Linked DNA regions of Homo sapiens: region 2 is linked to region 1. A link means that fine-mapping ties the variant in region 1 to the expression of a gene that starts in the linked region. Tissue or cell type: atrial appendage. Region 1 holds a variant in brackets; the other region holds the start of a gene. All regions are shown on one strand. Distances are from middle to middle.

Evidence for each region. PIP is the estimated chance that this variant, and not a neighbour inherited with it, causes the effect.
Region 2: it holds the start of CASQ2, and the variant in region 1 is fine-mapped to the expression of CASQ2 in atrial appendage (GTEx, PIP 0.99).

What each region holds. Positions count from the first base shown.
Region 1 is chr1:115,337,309-115,345,416 of GRCh38, forward strand. NGF (nerve growth factor) reads right to left here and starts at 941. Exons shown (of 3, transcript NM_002506.3): 1 at 896-941. The region is part of intron 1 of NGF-AS1 (NGF antisense RNA 1); the gene reads left to right. The variant T/C (reference allele first, on the strand shown) is at 3,865.
Region 2 is chr1:115,765,468-115,773,567 of GRCh38, forward strand. CASQ2 (calsequestrin 2) reads right to left here and starts at 3,247. Exons shown (of 11, transcript NM_001232.4): 1 at 2,841-3,247. The coding sequence starts at 3,074. RefSeq lists an enhancer at 6,300-6,559.

The sequences.
Region 1 (8,108 bases):
AGGAGGTTTGTAATTAGAGGGAGCTAAGCTGCTTGTTTCTGCTGGCTCAAAGTTGCAGCTCCCTGACCCCTGAGTCCTCTCTCCCTCCCCTAGATCCTCCTCGCCTGAACTCAAGGCGCTCCCCGCCCTAACCTTCCACGCCCGCTTCTCCCACACCTGGCAGCAGACAGCTGGAGATGAAGCGTGTGACCCAAGTGGCAGGGCTGAACCTTGGCGACCTCTACCTGAGGTTGTCCAACGCGGCTCCGTGGAGGGCCCCGGTACGCCGGACGGACCCCGGCGTTGGCTCGCAGACTTCCTGCGTTAACCCCCGGGGCCCTCAGTCACGACTCCCAGCCCTTCCGAGACGCGCTGAGGGAACTGCCCCAGGTCTAGCGCGCCCCGTTCCGCTCCTCCCCCTACCTGGGGGCCGCGCAGCACTTTCCCTACTCGGCGCTCACCTCAGCCAGCGCGCTCTGCGCTCCCCCCGCGGTGCTGGCCGCCACTCCTCCCGCCCTGGCGCGCCAGCTGCCGGCGCATCCCTCTCCGCGCCCATTCGCTCTCCCTCACTTGCGCGTTATCCACTTCTAGCCCTCGAGCTAGACCCTGGCATGGCCGTGGGCTTCTGCAGGCGCCAGGGCTGCTCCCTGGACTGCAGGCCATCCTGGGACTAGGGACTCCACGACCAGAACTAACGCTGTTCCCTCGGTCCGACTCGTCCTCCCGCGAGGGTCCCGCGCCCCCACACCCACTCGGGACATTTCTCAGGGCTGCTCTTCGGCCTGCGGGAGCCTCGGGGGTAACCAGAGAGCTCGCCAGACCGGTATCCTTGCAAACTCTCCCGCGAAGCCCAGCCACCCCTGCCCGCGCCCGCGCTGCGCCCCTCTCGGGATCGGCTCGGGGCAGCCTGACTCACCGCTGCGCTCCCCTCCGGCTCCCAGCGCTCTCTGCTGTGCCGGAGCGCCGAGCTGCTCTCACACAGGCTTCTTGAATTCTTAGCCCCTCCTCCCGTACTCCTGAGTCACACGCTCCAAATCCTGGCCCCCATCCCTCCCCTCCCCACCACCAGCCCCGCACCTGCTGTGGCTGGGCTGTGGTGCCCGGCTGGAGGGGGTCCTGGGGACTACAGACGGATCGCTCCTGGAGGGCTGGCCAGACCCAGCCAGAGAAGGACTTTAAACCTTCAGAGGTCAAAGGGAAACCCACTGGGGTCTGAGGGGCCGCGCGCGCAAAGCCGGGAGGGGGAGTTTCTGGGGCACCGGCAGGGGTCGTTGGGCCGACTGGCTGGGGCTGGGCGGAGTTGCTCGCAGCTTCCCTCACCTCTCCGCCCTGCCCCCGCGCGTTGCCCTTCGCCAGTGCCTCCCTGGTCTGCCCGGCGTCGCCCTCGGTGCCCCAGGCATCGGCTGCTCCTTTTCTTCGGGGCGCCTTTCCTTATCCCAGGATAGGTGAGCACCCAGGGGGAGCTCCGCGAGGGGCAGGTGCCCAAGCTCCTCTGACAAGGGAAGGCGGCTGCAGAACCAGCTAGAAGGCCCCCAGGCCCGGCAAGTCCAGCATGGGGACAAGGGGCAGAGGACTTCAGGAGTCAGGAGCTAGAGCCGGGACCTTAACTTAAGGCCCTGGGTTCCAGGAACTTCCCGGAGTCCTTGGCCCCTCTGAAACTGTAGGCTGATTTGCGCGACTGTGTGCAATGCTAATATTCTTTTCTGAGCTGAAGGTCCGCAGCTTTCATCAGTTTTGCAAGGGGTCTGTGACCCCAGACTGATATAGCCAGCAAACCCTAGGCCCCCATGCCCCCCTCTCCACACTCCAGGCCCCACACAAATTCTTCCTGACCCTTCAAAATTTCTTGAGTTCCCTCGATTCAGCCTGACAGGAGAGCTTGCCTGACTTTCCCCTGCCCCTCTGCCAGGGCTGTTCCCACCCCAGCATAAAATGAGCAAGGGAGAAATACCCCTGAAGTCAAATTTGTCACCAAATGTGCATCATTAATTGTAGCATTCCAGGGGATTCGTAGCTCTTTGGAAATTTACAGCCCCACTCCCTCCCGTGTTGAGCTTGTCTGTGCCTTCGCTTCTTCCTATAGCAAAGGTGGGTTGGACCCCTACCCTGTATGGATGCCACAGAGGAGAAGTAGGTGTGAGGAGAGTAACAGGGAGGGAAGGTGGGGCACAGAATCTCCCTATTGCTGGTAACACCAGCCAGTGCAACTTAGCAGAAGGGCACCCTCCAGGGAACTGGGATTTAGTGAAGCAGATGATTCCTGTCCTAAGTCTGGGGGTGGTCATTTACCCTTAATGGATGGCACTTGAGCAAGATGAAGCCCTGACTAGGCATTTCCAACTCCCTTGATTCAGATTAGTCTTGAGGTCTTACTTCTTTCTATTTTCACGTTTGCTCCCATAAGAAAGTTCATTCCATTTACACATGCTCTGAGAAGGATGAAATAGGCAAAAAGCCCTGGAATTGGAAGTCAGCCTTAGCTTTGGTGTGACCTTGTTGTTTCCCAGCCTTAGGCTTGTCCACTTCTGACTTGTTCAGATACAGGCTGGTGTATGAACACACTTTGGAAGTGAGGGCAAGAGGCCAGGGAACACTGTGAATGGCCCTTTCTACAAAAGTAGTATCATAGTCGAGGTGATCCATTAGGAAATTTATCATCGTCAATTAAACAAAAGAATTTCCAGATAACAGGATGAATTCATCCATCAATCATGTCATGTATAAACTTGTTTGGAAAGCACTAGCCCCAAGCCTTACATAATAGCTGCCTGAGAATTTGGGTATGAAATTAAACTTTTAGAATAACAGAGAATTTGGTTGTTGAATGCAGAGCATTTGTATGTGTTCTTGTGGCATCATTCAGAAGGACAAAAGGATTTGGGACACTTGTGGTTCTTTTCCATGTGGTATGTAAGGGGGAAACTTTAAGTGATGTAAGCAGATTATAAGTTTGCTTATATGCTCCATCCTCACCCCCTAAATTGTTGGTCATATTCTTCTTGCACATGTTGATTTAATAAGAGCTCCTTTCTGCCCCTAACTACCTCTATTTCTGTCCCTGGACTTCAAGGATCTTGAGTAAATAAGAACATGTAAACAACAAACACAAAAATACTCCAAAGATTATTGATTGAGAGCCTACCATATGCCAGGCACTGTGTGCTGGCAGTGGTACCGGCTCTCAGAGAGCTTATGTTCTAGTGGGGGCTTGATTATTAGTCCCTGGCCATGTTTATCACAGTTTCCCTAGGTCCTAGCATAGGACCTGGCCTATAGTAGGTGCTCAGTTAATACTTGTTGAATCCAACAACGGTCAGAGTCATTTGTGACTGTCAGACAACCCACCAACACTGGATTGGTTTCCAGCAGGTTCCAGATCAGCCTGCCTTTGGCACAGAGACCACAGCCAGGTGCCTTTTCCCCTGCCTCTTCCACTTTCAAGAAGGTTCAAACAGAAATGTCCTTCTCTTGGGTCATTGAGAGAAGGACTTCTGGGCCTGGACCAGCTACATTCATAGGAATGAAAAACAGCTGAGAGGGCAGCGGCCAGAGGAATGGTGCAGACAAGCAGAGGATAAGAATGTTTTTCTGTACTAGATTTTCTCGAAAGAGCCTTTTATCCAGGGTATCAAAATAACCAGCAGCTGATGCATTTGCTGACTTGGAGGAGAGATTGTGGCGTGTACAGTAATTGTTGTTATTTCTGAAGATCTAGAAGGCTGCAGCCATTGAGTGCCTCATCAACAGCAACAGTCAGCTAGCACAAACCCCTGGCTTCTCCCTTGCTTCATTCCAGGAGGCCAGGACAAAGTGCATGTGCTATTTAAAACACCAGCAGGCTCAGCAGAGATCTGCCAGCAAGGATGGAATCACTGGATCTGCTAG[T/C]TCTTCATGTGAAACACAGAAATATTGTCCCAATTGCTGGAGGAAGTGATAGCTTCCGTTTAAAGACTTTTTTTTCCTCTTCCTTCTAATCAGAGTGAAGAAGAACTTCAGAAGAGGAAATGTTTCATAATGCTTAGTGAGATGACATGTTCACAGAATCACAGAAATGATCAATCCAGCCACCTTATTTATGGATGAAGAAACAAGGGCTCAGGAAGGACAAAGGCTCAGCCAAATACACGTGGCCAGTGTCCGGCTTTTTGACTTCTAAGCAAGCCTTCCTTTTACTACACTCCCTGAAAGAGGCTGGGAGAAAAACTGACCAATTCAGTCTACAGGAAAAAGCTGGTAAAGGAGCTAAAGTAGGCAAGGGTGCAGAGAGGGCCAGGGGTGCCCCCTTCTCCTCTGGGCTATCCCTGCCTACTCCTGTGGCCTGTTCCTGGCTTTTGCTGTTTCTCGCTGAGATCTCCAGTTCCTCCATCTCTACTAGTTCCCTCGCTTTTGCTTGTGAACATTCACTTGCCTTTTCTCTCTTAAAGAAACTGCTAGCCCAAACTCTGGATTTCTTAGCTTCCATTCACTACCAAATTCTTCAGCAAGGTAATCTATACCCATCATTTCCTTGGCACCCCCTCCCCGAAACTTTCTGCAACCAAGTTCCCATCTTCCTCCCCTACCTTTCCTTTCTCCCTACTAAACTGATAATTTTTTTTAAAGGTCGTTAGTTGCAAGAACACCACCAACACCAACACAATCTCAGCAGCATTTATCTAGTGCTTGCCTTATTTCAAGTACTGGGCAAGGCATTTTTCCTAGCCTTATTAATTGGTCCTATTGATTTGTAGATAAGATGAAACTCTGAGAGGTAAGTCACTTCCCAGGTCTCATAGCTAGCCAAACGGCTGAGTAGAGAATTGAACCCAATCCCTTGCTGTTAAATGCCACGCCTCCTCCTCCTTTCAGCCAAGCTCAGCTGACTTTGACAGTCCTAGTCCACTCTATTCATGACCTCCTTTGTCTACAACTTTCCTTTCAGAACTCCTGTGACCACACTATCCTGGCTTACTAGCCACCTCTCTGATTTCATCTGCCCTCTGCACTCATGGGCCTCCCACAACTCAGTCCTGGGGCTTTACATTCTCCTCCACTCTTGTTCTTCCAGGTGTTTTTTTCTACTAATTTTATAATTCCAAGCATGGTTTCAACTCTGGCCTCTCCTTTAATCACCAACACTTTGAGTGTTATGTGCGAAGCACTACCTAGGTTCTTGTTTCAGCGAATCTGCACAGGCCCTGGCGAGGACTGTGTTTCTGCCTCTCCTCTGACTCTCAGCCCCTCCATCCAAAGCCCTTGCTCTTAACTCAGCCAGGCAGCTGCCCCACAGATCCCATTCTTGAAAGGTCAGGAAATCCACGTGGGCCCAGGACAGTTCAGCTCTTTTCCTGCAGCCCAGGAAAGTCACCAGTTTGGAACTGGCAAGATTTAGCCCATCTGTCCTCTTAAGTGGTGTGTCCTTGGGAGAAAGATTGACCCTCCTTGAGCCGTAATAATAATAATTACTTTTCATTATATGGAGTGAATATGTTAAACAATTTTCAAGCACCTGCTACGTGCCAGCCCCATTCTAGGTGCTGGGGATTCAGCAAATGAACAAAACAGCCTATAAACACATAGAATTTTTTATTTTTAAATTTTTTAATAATTTCAACTTTTACTTTAGATTCAGGGGGCACATGTGCAGGTTTGTTACAGGGGTATATTGCCTGATGCTGAGACTTGGGATATGATTGATCTCATCACCTAGATAGTGAGCATAGTCCCAACAGTTAGTTTTTCAACCCTTGCCCCATTTCCTTCCTCCCCACTCTAGTAGTCCCCAGTAGATACATGGAATTTAAATTATATTAATTTGCGTCACCTATTTAATAAATGTGCATTATTTAATGTATATTATATGCCAGGCCCATAAAAGTCAGTTGTGATTTTGGTGAGTTGCAGGGCAGGTGAGTGAGACAGATGCAGACACAGTCAGTGCCAACCAAGTCAATGATCTCCTTAGGTGCAAGGAGAGTCAGGTGAGCCCTCTGGGGACTGGATCCTCTCCTCTGCTGTCCCGATTCAAACAGCTGTGAGCCTCCACCTTTTCAGGCTGGTCTGACTCCAGTCTCCACAGGAACTGGTCTCCACAAGAACCCCTGGTGACCCTGTGGCTTTCACTGGTGCTTTCTTCAGAGTCCCCTGAGGCTCTCTCACTCCTCTCCCACTGAGCCAAACCCTCAGTGTCCCTCACGAGCCTACAGCCAATTCAAGTGTGCCTCCATCTGGGTCCTCACTATACAACCCTCCCTGGCCCTGGAGTTGGTACATTCCTATTAGGGCCACCCAAGAGATACCTCTGGGGCAGGATTCCCCAGGGATCAAGTTTGCCTGCATAGCATCACAGCTGCTCTTTCCTGTCACATGGTATCATGTTGACAATTAAGGTTTTGTGGTGCTGAGGCAGGCAAGAACCCCACACTTTCATTTGTGATGCTCCTATGCAGGAGTCTGGGATAGATGGGCTCTGCCACATCCTGGGTAGATCTCTGTCCCTTCAGTGGTGACACTGAGCTCACTGCATTTATTAAAATCCTATCCTGGGGTAGAATCTGTGTTAGGTACAAGGAAACAAAGATCAAGAAGAAATGATTATTGCTATATAGGAACCTACTATCCAATGGGGCATCAGACACATAAACTGATAAGAAATCTGTAAGGGAGGATCTAGAAGCTGGAGAGATGGGAAATTCAACCAACTTAGAGCTTTGCCTTTGTTGTCATCCCATTGCATTTTGCATAAATTCCATATTCTTTGAAGAGACTTACGAGGCTCTGTGTCATCTGGCTCCTCCAGCCCCTTCATCTTCCTTTCTTGCTACTTTCTTTTCTTTGCTCTAGCCTCTGCCGTGGTGAATTTACTTCAGTTCATTTCACAAGCAGCACCAGCCCCACAGGTCCTATATGGTGTTTCCAGTGCTTCAAAAACTTTTAGCCTTCTCCCTACTCCTTCACCTGTCCATTTCCTCTTCCTCTGAAACTCAGCTCTGAGAATCTTCAATGACATTTCTAGTCAGGTGATTTCCCTGATCCTCCAAGTCAAGACTGAGTGCCCTTTCTAGGTGCTTCTCCAGCCCTCCATATTGCACAAAACACATGCTCAATAAATCATTTAAAATGAGATATTGCCCAAGATAAGCTTTGAAGCATGTGTAGGAGCCAGGAGAAGAATGCTGGGAAGGACATCATTTGAGACAGAAGGAACACTTTTAACCAAGGTGTGCAAGTGTGAGATGGTATGTTGCGTACGGGAAACTGCAGCTGATTCAGAACTGGTGGGGCATGACGTGGTAGGAGATACTGCTGGATCAGTCACTGGGAAGGTCGAGGAAGGCATGGATAATGAAGGGTGAAACCAAATGCAAAGAGACCACCTAGGGCCGGTAGTTATAGTCAGGGTGAACGGTGATGGCAGCAGCCTGATCCATGCATGGGGAGCTAAGCATGCAGAGGAGACATTCAAACAAAACTTAGCGTGTAAATTCATCAGGAAGTGGGGAATGGCTGGATGCAGGGGTAGGGTGAGAAAAGGGTCTCCTGGGTGCCCTTTGGATTCCTGATTTGCCTGAGCAGGTAAATGATGGTGCTGGCTATGGAGATGGAGCATCCAGAGGTGGGGCCTATGTAGTGGCCTTGGAAGCAGGGGTCTTCAATTTAGGATTTTGCTGGGCCCATGGAATACTCAAGGACATATGTGCAACATATGGAGTTTGGAGATCAGGAATGATGTCGAGGCTAGCTGTCTCTGCACACTGCACACAGGCTGAAGGCAACCAGTAGCATCATCTCAGAGTCTCCACTGAGAACTTACCTCCCCATCAAGCCACACTCTCACTGTCCACCATGTTGGCACCATACCAACTATGGGGCATCTCCCAGAGGCTAGAACCCAGGGAAACAGATCACTCGCTCCAGTGTTACCTGGTTCCCTCCTTCCTGTTTATTTCTATAATACTCACTCTCCACCTTGAGGTGCAGGCCAAAGTGTGAGAGCAATTGGGTACCCTAGGGGATGACCACCTTGCCTTTCCCATAAAACTCTATGATCAAGCTCTCCAAGCCTGGCTCTTTATAATCTGTGAGAGTTTAAGAAATTCAGAATCCCTTCCCCTTTTTTTCTTTCACAAGAATGACTGACTTTCAAAACC
Region 2 (8,100 bases), 430 kb after region 1:
TAATTCCTAGAAATTCCTCAGGTGTTTCAGCCTGGGGATGGCAACTCCTCACTGGAGAGGGAAATCAACTTAATAGGTTGAGATCAATTTTTAAAATGAAATAGAAGAGAACAGGATAAAAATAGAAAAAAAAATTTAATTCCCCAAGTAATAATAATAAGTATAGTTCATATGAAATTTTTGTTTCTGGTGTGTGTGTGTGTCTGTGTGTGTCTGTATATACTGGGTCATAGTCGGTTATGATAAAAAGTGTCAGAAGCCGCCTTAAGCTGCGAGGGGGAAGGGAGCTGCCTCCCCTCCAGCTATTTGTCCGTGGCTGAGACCACACTGCCTGTTGGATGGACACTGGGAACTGCCTCCTCTTTTCCCCCTACCCCCTAACAGCCACAGCCCTGGAAGCTGACAGACTATTTTTCTTAGTGCAAGTGTGGGGTCTAGAGGATTAAGAGGACAAAATAGATGTTTTGACCATGAAGAAAGTTTAAAGGCATGTTCGCTCTTTCCACTCATGGACTTCCCGGAGCCATTTTTTCCCTTGATGCTGCGCCTGACAAGTATCTCAACAAAGGCCCGCCCCTTCCTCAACCTTCACTAATGGAGCCCAGGCCTCCTCCTCAGTTTGCACTTTTGCATGAGCAGCGCCTCCAGGCCATGTACTTCTCGGCCATGCTGGTGTACAGCTGGCATCATCAGACCCGGGTCCAGAGGCTGAGCAACTCTGTTTAAGGAAGACTCTTGAAACCATCTTAAACAGGCTACCCAGAAGCCCCTTGGGCGTTTTCGCACTGATTTCAGGAGTAGTACCGTGTAGGTGTTACGTACAACTGCCTTCATCTGTAGTAGCTGTGTGACCTTGGACAACTTAGCCTCTCTGCTTCAGTTTCCACATCTATAAAATGGAATTGGTAACTGTACCTACTTAATAGAATTATTGTAAGGATTAAACAAGCTAACACATACCAAGTGCTTAGAACAGTCCCTGCACTTAGTAAGCATTTAATCAACATTATTATTATTTAATCATTTCTTAAGCTGCATGATAGTTACTATTTTTCCATATTTATAGATAAGAAAATGAAGCTCTGAGAAATTACGTAATTTGCCCTGTGTCCTGTGCCTAGTAGAGACAAAGCCAGAACTTAAATCCAGATATCCTGACTTCAAGGTCTGTGTTCTTTTTCTCCTAATGATGCCTCACTCCAGCTTTAGCAGCCTGAGGGGCATCAAATTAACTCCTGTGGTGAACTTTTCCTTATCGGTCTCTGCTGGGCCGGCACCCACTGTGAAAAGGGCACTCTTGGATCAAAGGTGTCTGGAGGGATGGTAAGCCCAGGGGAAGTTTCTGTTCATGATTTTGCATAGTCTTTGGGGACAGATATACTTGGGGGAGCTAGAGATGATAGATAGATAGATAGATAGATAGATAGATAGATAGATAGATAGATAGATAGAAGGATGATAGAAAGATATTTCTTTTTTAAAAAAAATTAGAATCAGAAATGAATGTCCTTGCCTGTACTGGCCACCCAAAGGCATTCTTTTGGAGTTCTAGGCTAACTGGACAGCGATGAGCATATAGGGGAGAATCCTTATGCCTTCAATTAAGTTTTCATAACAATGTCTCTTGATAACTGAGTATGGCAGTTTGAGATGGAGATATAATGTAAGTGTTGGTTTCATGTGCTAAGCAGCAGCTAAGTTCTATGTCTCGTTCTTTTCCAGCCTGTGATTTGCTCATTTCTATAAAATAAAGTCTTAATAACTATCCCTGCTTTCTCTTTTCTTGCAACCCACAGAGAGAACTGAAATTCCACATTCAGCACCCAAGGTTGGAGATATACTTTTGATGTATTTGGGATAGTTTTGCTGGATTTTATTACAGTCAATTTTTCAATTTGAAAAAATTCAAATCCACATGGGTTTTATATGATAATCCTATTAAACTATTTCATCAACCTGAGTTCTCTGATTGTGCTGGTTAATAAACTGTAATTCTCAAATATCCCTTTCACAGGTTTGCGCCTGGGCTAGGCGTGGAGACTGATGAGGCATCTTGGTGCCCACTAGCATTCTTGGCACCCTCAGGCCCTCTTAAAGTGTAAGCCATCTTAAGCTGTCCAGGAGGAGCTGCAGGAATAGTTTCTGGGGCACTCGCAAAGGATTAGAAAATGGGCCCCAGTGCCAGGTTACAAACAGGCAGGCCATGTAATGCGGATAAAATAAGAACTGACTTCAGCTCTGCCCTAAAGTCACACCAAGAACTTTCTGAGAAAAAAAATCACATAAATGAATATGCTGCTCAGAAGATCTGCACACAACTACATTCTGTAATGCTGACTGACGCAAAACAAGAGAGAGGAAAGTCATTTAGTGATATTCTCCGTCTGACCCCCAGAGAGACGCAAGGTCAAGTAACTCTGGTCTCTCCAGGATCATGGGGAGATTTGAGGGAGCAAAGTGGGCACACTGAATGAAATCCACAAGTAGTCCCTGGATTTCATTTCAGCCAACAGTTTTAACAATAGTTTCTACATTCTATCTGGGAAACAATGGCTGGGACAAGGGCCCTTGAAAAGTCAAGGGGGCCATAAAGACTTTACATCAGACCCATCGTAGTGTAGCACGTTTGGTCCTCTTCATTTGAAGAGTTAGGACCCACCCCTCATTGTTCACACATCCCAGCTGTGTGACAAGGGCATCTGATTCACGTGAGGCCAAAATAAAGCAGAGTTCAGTATATATTCTCTGCATCCTCGTTCCCATATCCCAACCCCTGGCCAAAGGCATTCCCTCGGCACCTCACTGAGGCAGCGCAGACAGCATGCCCTTTGGTTACTTACCTCAAGCACGATTTCTTTCAGTTGGAACTGTTTTTGCGTGACCTTATCTGAAGACACCGGCTCATGGTAGTAGAGGCAAAGCAAGTCATATTTCTTTAAAACCTGCTTGAAGTTCTTCTCGGAAAGACTTACCACTCGGTCCTTCCCATCATATGTGGGGAAATTAAGCCCCTCTTCTGCCCTGCAAGAGGACAGAAAATAAATCCCCACAATAAACAAGTGAGTTCTCTTCATTTGGGAAAACTTTTGTTTCTCGTTCCCAAATATGCTGTGTGCAGAATAGAGGACAGAAGACTGTTAGAGGCCTTGTTGAGCCAAGGAGAGAGCAGACAGGCTGATTTTCTCTCTTCTTTGCCCTTCCTGGGGCTGAAAAGTGACTCTTCACCTCCTTGGGTCCAGCCAGCTCTGGAATCGTGGGCTCAGGACAAAGAGCAGAGGCACACACACACACACACGCACGCACGCACGCACGCATGAGAGTAGAAAAACAGCCAAGCTAGGGAGGCTGGGAGGCCAAGCCCCAGATACCTTACATAGCTCTGCTCAGCCTCTGTCTCATTAGGAACTCCATTTTTAGGATGCAGTTGTTTCAGGCTAAAAATAAATCATGCAATGAATAAAAAAGTTAGATACGACACTGTAGAGGGATTCGCTGATACAGTCTGTCCGACTGGTGAAGAGGGAAGAGGCAGAAGGAAAAAGACAAGAATGTACACGCATGAAATAAGGAGGCTAGAAAGGTCAAAGAAGAGAAAGAAACTCGAGAGGGAGAGAGATAAGGGACTATGGTGCCAATAAGCAAATGGAGAGTTCAAACATACGGAATGACACTCATACATTACTGAATTGTTAAATCACCCCAGGGTGGTAACTCAGCCTGTCCCCTCACGGTGGTTGTTCATCCTCTGTTCCTCACTGCAACATGGAACAAAATGGAGCCCCGAGGTAGACTTCTTCATGTTCTACTCCTGTCTTTTTCTGCCTTCCCTCCTCTCTTCTTAAAAATCCTCTGCCAGCCACTGGGCGAGGGGTGCAGGGACACCCTGCTGAACCCAGCTGACACCAGAAGAACCTGTCCTCATTAAACTAAAATGAAACAAGGTTCACAGTTCAAATCCCTACTCTGCCTTTTAACAGCTAATGAACTTTGGAGGGTCACTTGCCCTCTCTGATTCTCAGTTCCCCTCTATGTAAAGTGGGGCTGATAATAACCATAAAGTTTCAAACACATAGATGAAAAAGCATGGCACAAAATAGGTGCTCAAAAATAGTAGCTATTATACTTACTTCTCATTGGAGCTGGTGGAACATTGGTTATATAATGGATATTTGTCTGTTTCTAATATGAATGGTTTGTGAACCCTTTCTTGTCCATTTTCTCCTTGAATCCAGTAGGCAATTGGGGCAAAAGGGATCAGGGCTCATCCTACCGCTGAGCTAACAGCAACTTGTCTGAGTTTGCAGCATTTCTAACTGCCGGAGCAAGAATCCAACCCTGCCTCAAAGCTGCTGCTCCTGGCTGTTTTGCCTCTGACTCTGGGTGATTCCCTTGCAGACACCCCTTTTCTTAAGTACCTTCTTGACCATCTCTTCCAGTCCAACCCTAGTCCAGTCATGTCTCTCCACTCTTCAAAGGCATCTAGGGCATTCATGATTCTGACCAAGTTTTTGTTCTCCTTCAGTTATAAATCAGCTTTGGAAAGACAGAGTACTCTGTCATGCACAGCTTCTGCAGGGGCTAGAAGGCAAAGAGAAGATCCGTGGCCTCTCTGAGTAAAGCAAGGCTCCCCTGCAGTCAGACGGCCTTACACTGAGAGTCAGGCTGATAAGGGGTTGTCTTGATGCTACACTCTCATGTGCAGAAAGTTGGGGCCTTGAAGAACCCATCACTAAAACCCTTGACGGTATTCCGTTCTTTCTAATGGTGTAGTCTCTAAGTTTTCAAAAGATGGAGCCAAGAATATCCATTCTAAGGTGCACTTAGCTTTCCAAGTCAGTGGCAAGCATGCAAGATCTCTGCTTTCTTTAGGAAATTTAAGGGGAAAAAGATTTCCGAGTGAAACAATGTGTGTCTTGTCTTTTTGAGGTCAGCCTCCCCAGACTGTTCCCAGTTGTCTCGATCTCACTGGGTTACCTTTATTTAGAATTTGCTCCACTTTTCTTAATATGTAAGTAGGTTTTTTTTAACTGTTACTGAAAAATTGGAAGCTATTTAAAGTCAGAGTCTTTTAATTTCCTTCTGACTTATAATTGACAAAACTATAAGGGAAAAGAAATAATTTTTTAAACTTTAGTTTAGCCTTCAACTCTGGTTTACTACAAAAAGCCCGAGCTGTGGAAAGTTCCTGCCCCTAGATCATGGACTCGATTTGGGCCAGGCAGCCCAGCCCTGAGGACATGCAGCCACTGACATATGCTGTGGTGATCAGGTTTCCCCCAAGCATCCATGGTAGATATGAGGTCTACATTCATGCCCCACTCTCAGCAAAAGGTAGGTTTTCATAGTTTACATTTAACGTACCAGGCTTATTTTCTGTCTGCCTTTCATTTTCCTATTTTTGTTTTTCCTCTGTCTTATTGCTCACCAACTTTAATTTTTTTTTTTTTTTTTTTTTTTTGAGATGGAGTTTCGCTCTTGTCGCCCAGGCTGGAGTGCAATGGCGCGATCTCGGCTCACCACAATCTCCGCCTCCCAGGTTCAAGCCATTCTTCTGCCTCAGCCTCCCGAGTAGCTGGGATTACAGGCACGTGCCATCACGCCTGGCTAATTTTGTATTTTTATTAGATACGAGGTTTCTCCATGTTGGTCAGGCTGGTCTTGAACTCCCAATCTCGGGTGATCCGCCTGCCTTAGCCTCCCAAAGTGCTAGGATTACAGGTGTGAGCCACCAGGTCCAGCCAATTCATTTATTTTTTAAACAAAGAATGCTTCACACATTTCTGAGTCAACCTTACATCCTGCAAATCAGCTGTTTTGTTCCAGCTTTAGCTGCGCCCCAAGCCAATGTGTCATGTACTTCTAGTTTATGTGGTTGTGCTGAAATGTGTGCATTTTTATGTGCCATTAGTAGGTACTTTTTGTTTTGTTTTTAAACAAGAAGGGGTAGAACAAAACACACAAATCAATACAAATAAATGTTTATTGTTGTCACAATATATGCCGTAGGCCCCTTGTTTTGCTAACCATTTCCAGTCCTTCACTGTGAGTGGCCGCCAACTACAGTCCCTTAATCTAACCTAGCTCATTTACTTTGTTTATTCTTGACAGGTGGCAGAATGATTTTTCTCTCAGACCATTTTATCTACAAAGAGAAACGTATGTGCTCACGCCTCCCTTCGAAGGTCTGCAGGTCTCCATTTGGGCGCCTCTGAGGTGCCTCAGAGAAAGAACCGCCCCCAGAAAGGCAGGAGACCTGCGTTCCGCCTGCCTGTGTGATTAGGTCAGGAGCCCTGAGGCTCGGGCCCTAGCACTTCCAATTTGTGAAAGAGGGTTAGAGTCACCAAGCTCCTAAGGCCCCCTTTCTGGCTCTAAGATGTTAAAATCTGTTATAAGATTTTCTTTTACCAGGATAGGCCTCAGCCCAACACACAGTGTGATGAAGTCTGATGAGTGTTAGCTGCGGAGGAGGGTTTTGATGGGCGTGACTCCGGACGAGTCCAAGCTTGCCTCTTCTCCAAGGCAAAGATCGCCTACAATGTCACTGCTGCCAAAGGACCCTTCTTTGGCTAAAATACTCCACCCAGTGGACAAAACAGAAAATGGCCTATTTCTTTGCTCCCGTTCCTGGAAGGAAGCACAGCCTATTGGCCTGGTAGAAAGAGTGCAGAAATGCTCGGGTCTAGAGCCCTGTGCTCCATGAGCCTCCAGCATCCTCTGGCCAGATCTAAACAAGCCTGTTAGCAACCCCAAGGCCCTCCTTTTCTCTCAACTTTAACAGGTGGTCCCTGGAGCCTTCCTGCCTCCTCTGCACCAGGAAACTCCTCAACAGAAACGAGCAGAAAGAGATCAATGCTATCCTGAAAAAGAGCCCCAAAGCTCCACCGATATGATTCCAGGTTTTGACAAATGTCACCTACTCAAGGAGGCCCTCAGTGTAGACCAGGAGCGGACACTCACTCCCCTTACACACTATACTTCTCCTTGGAAACACTCCTCTCACGGGAGATCCTTCTCCCTCTCCCCGCTGAACCTCATTGCTTCAGGGGCAGCATCTGTTCACAGCATCCTCATAGCAAGTAGTAGTTCTCATTAAATGCTTATTAAATAAATCTGTAGCATTACTTTGTGTCCGGGCCCGGTGGCTCACGCCTGGAATCCCAGCACTTTGAGAGGTTGAGGCGGGAGGATCACCTGAGGTCAGGAGTTTGAGACCAGCCTAGCCAACATAGCGAAACCCAATCTCTACTAAAATACAAAAAGACAGGCATAATAGCACCTGCCTGTAATCCCAGCTACTCGGAGGCTAAGGCAGGAGAATCGCTTGAGCCTGGGAGGCTGAGACTGCAGTGTGCCGAGATTGCACCACTGCACTCCAGCCTGGGCAAGAGAGTGAGACTCCATCTCAAAAAAAAAAAAAAAAAGCCAGGTATTTTAACAGCAGCAACAAGAGAAGGAGAGACAGAGAGAGAGAAGGAAGGAAGGAAGGACAGGGGAAGGAAGGAAGGAAAGAAGGAAGGAAAAATTTAATTCAGTAGACAAGAACAGATAAATGGAAAGCTTAGGGCTACTTTGTCCTGGAACTAGGGGGGAAATACAGGGTTCTCAGGGGTAGCAGTAAAAGAACAGAAAAAAAAAACCCTAATATGGAGGTCATATCAAAGGGTCCAAATGGAGGGTATGGTAGGCGGAATAGTGCCTTCCCATTCCCCCACCCCCCATCAGGATGTCCAGTATAATCCTCAGAACCTGTGTGTGTGTGTGTGTGTGTGTGTGTGTGTGTGTGTGTGTGTGTGTGTGTGTTGTCTAATATGACCAAGGAGTCTTTGCAGATGTGATTAAATTACGGATCTTGAGATGGAGAGATTAGCCTGGATTATCCTGGTGGATGCTTGTGAAACAGAGGCAAGAGGGTCAGAGTGAGAGAAGGAGATGGAGGATGGAAGCAGAGGCTGGAATGACACAGGCCAGCAGCCAAAGCATGTAGGCAGCCTCTAAGAGGTAGAAAAGGCCAGGAGAGGATTTTCCCTGAAAGCCTCCAGGAGGAATGCAGCCCCACAACCCATTTTAGACTTTTAACCTCCATAACTATAAGATAATACA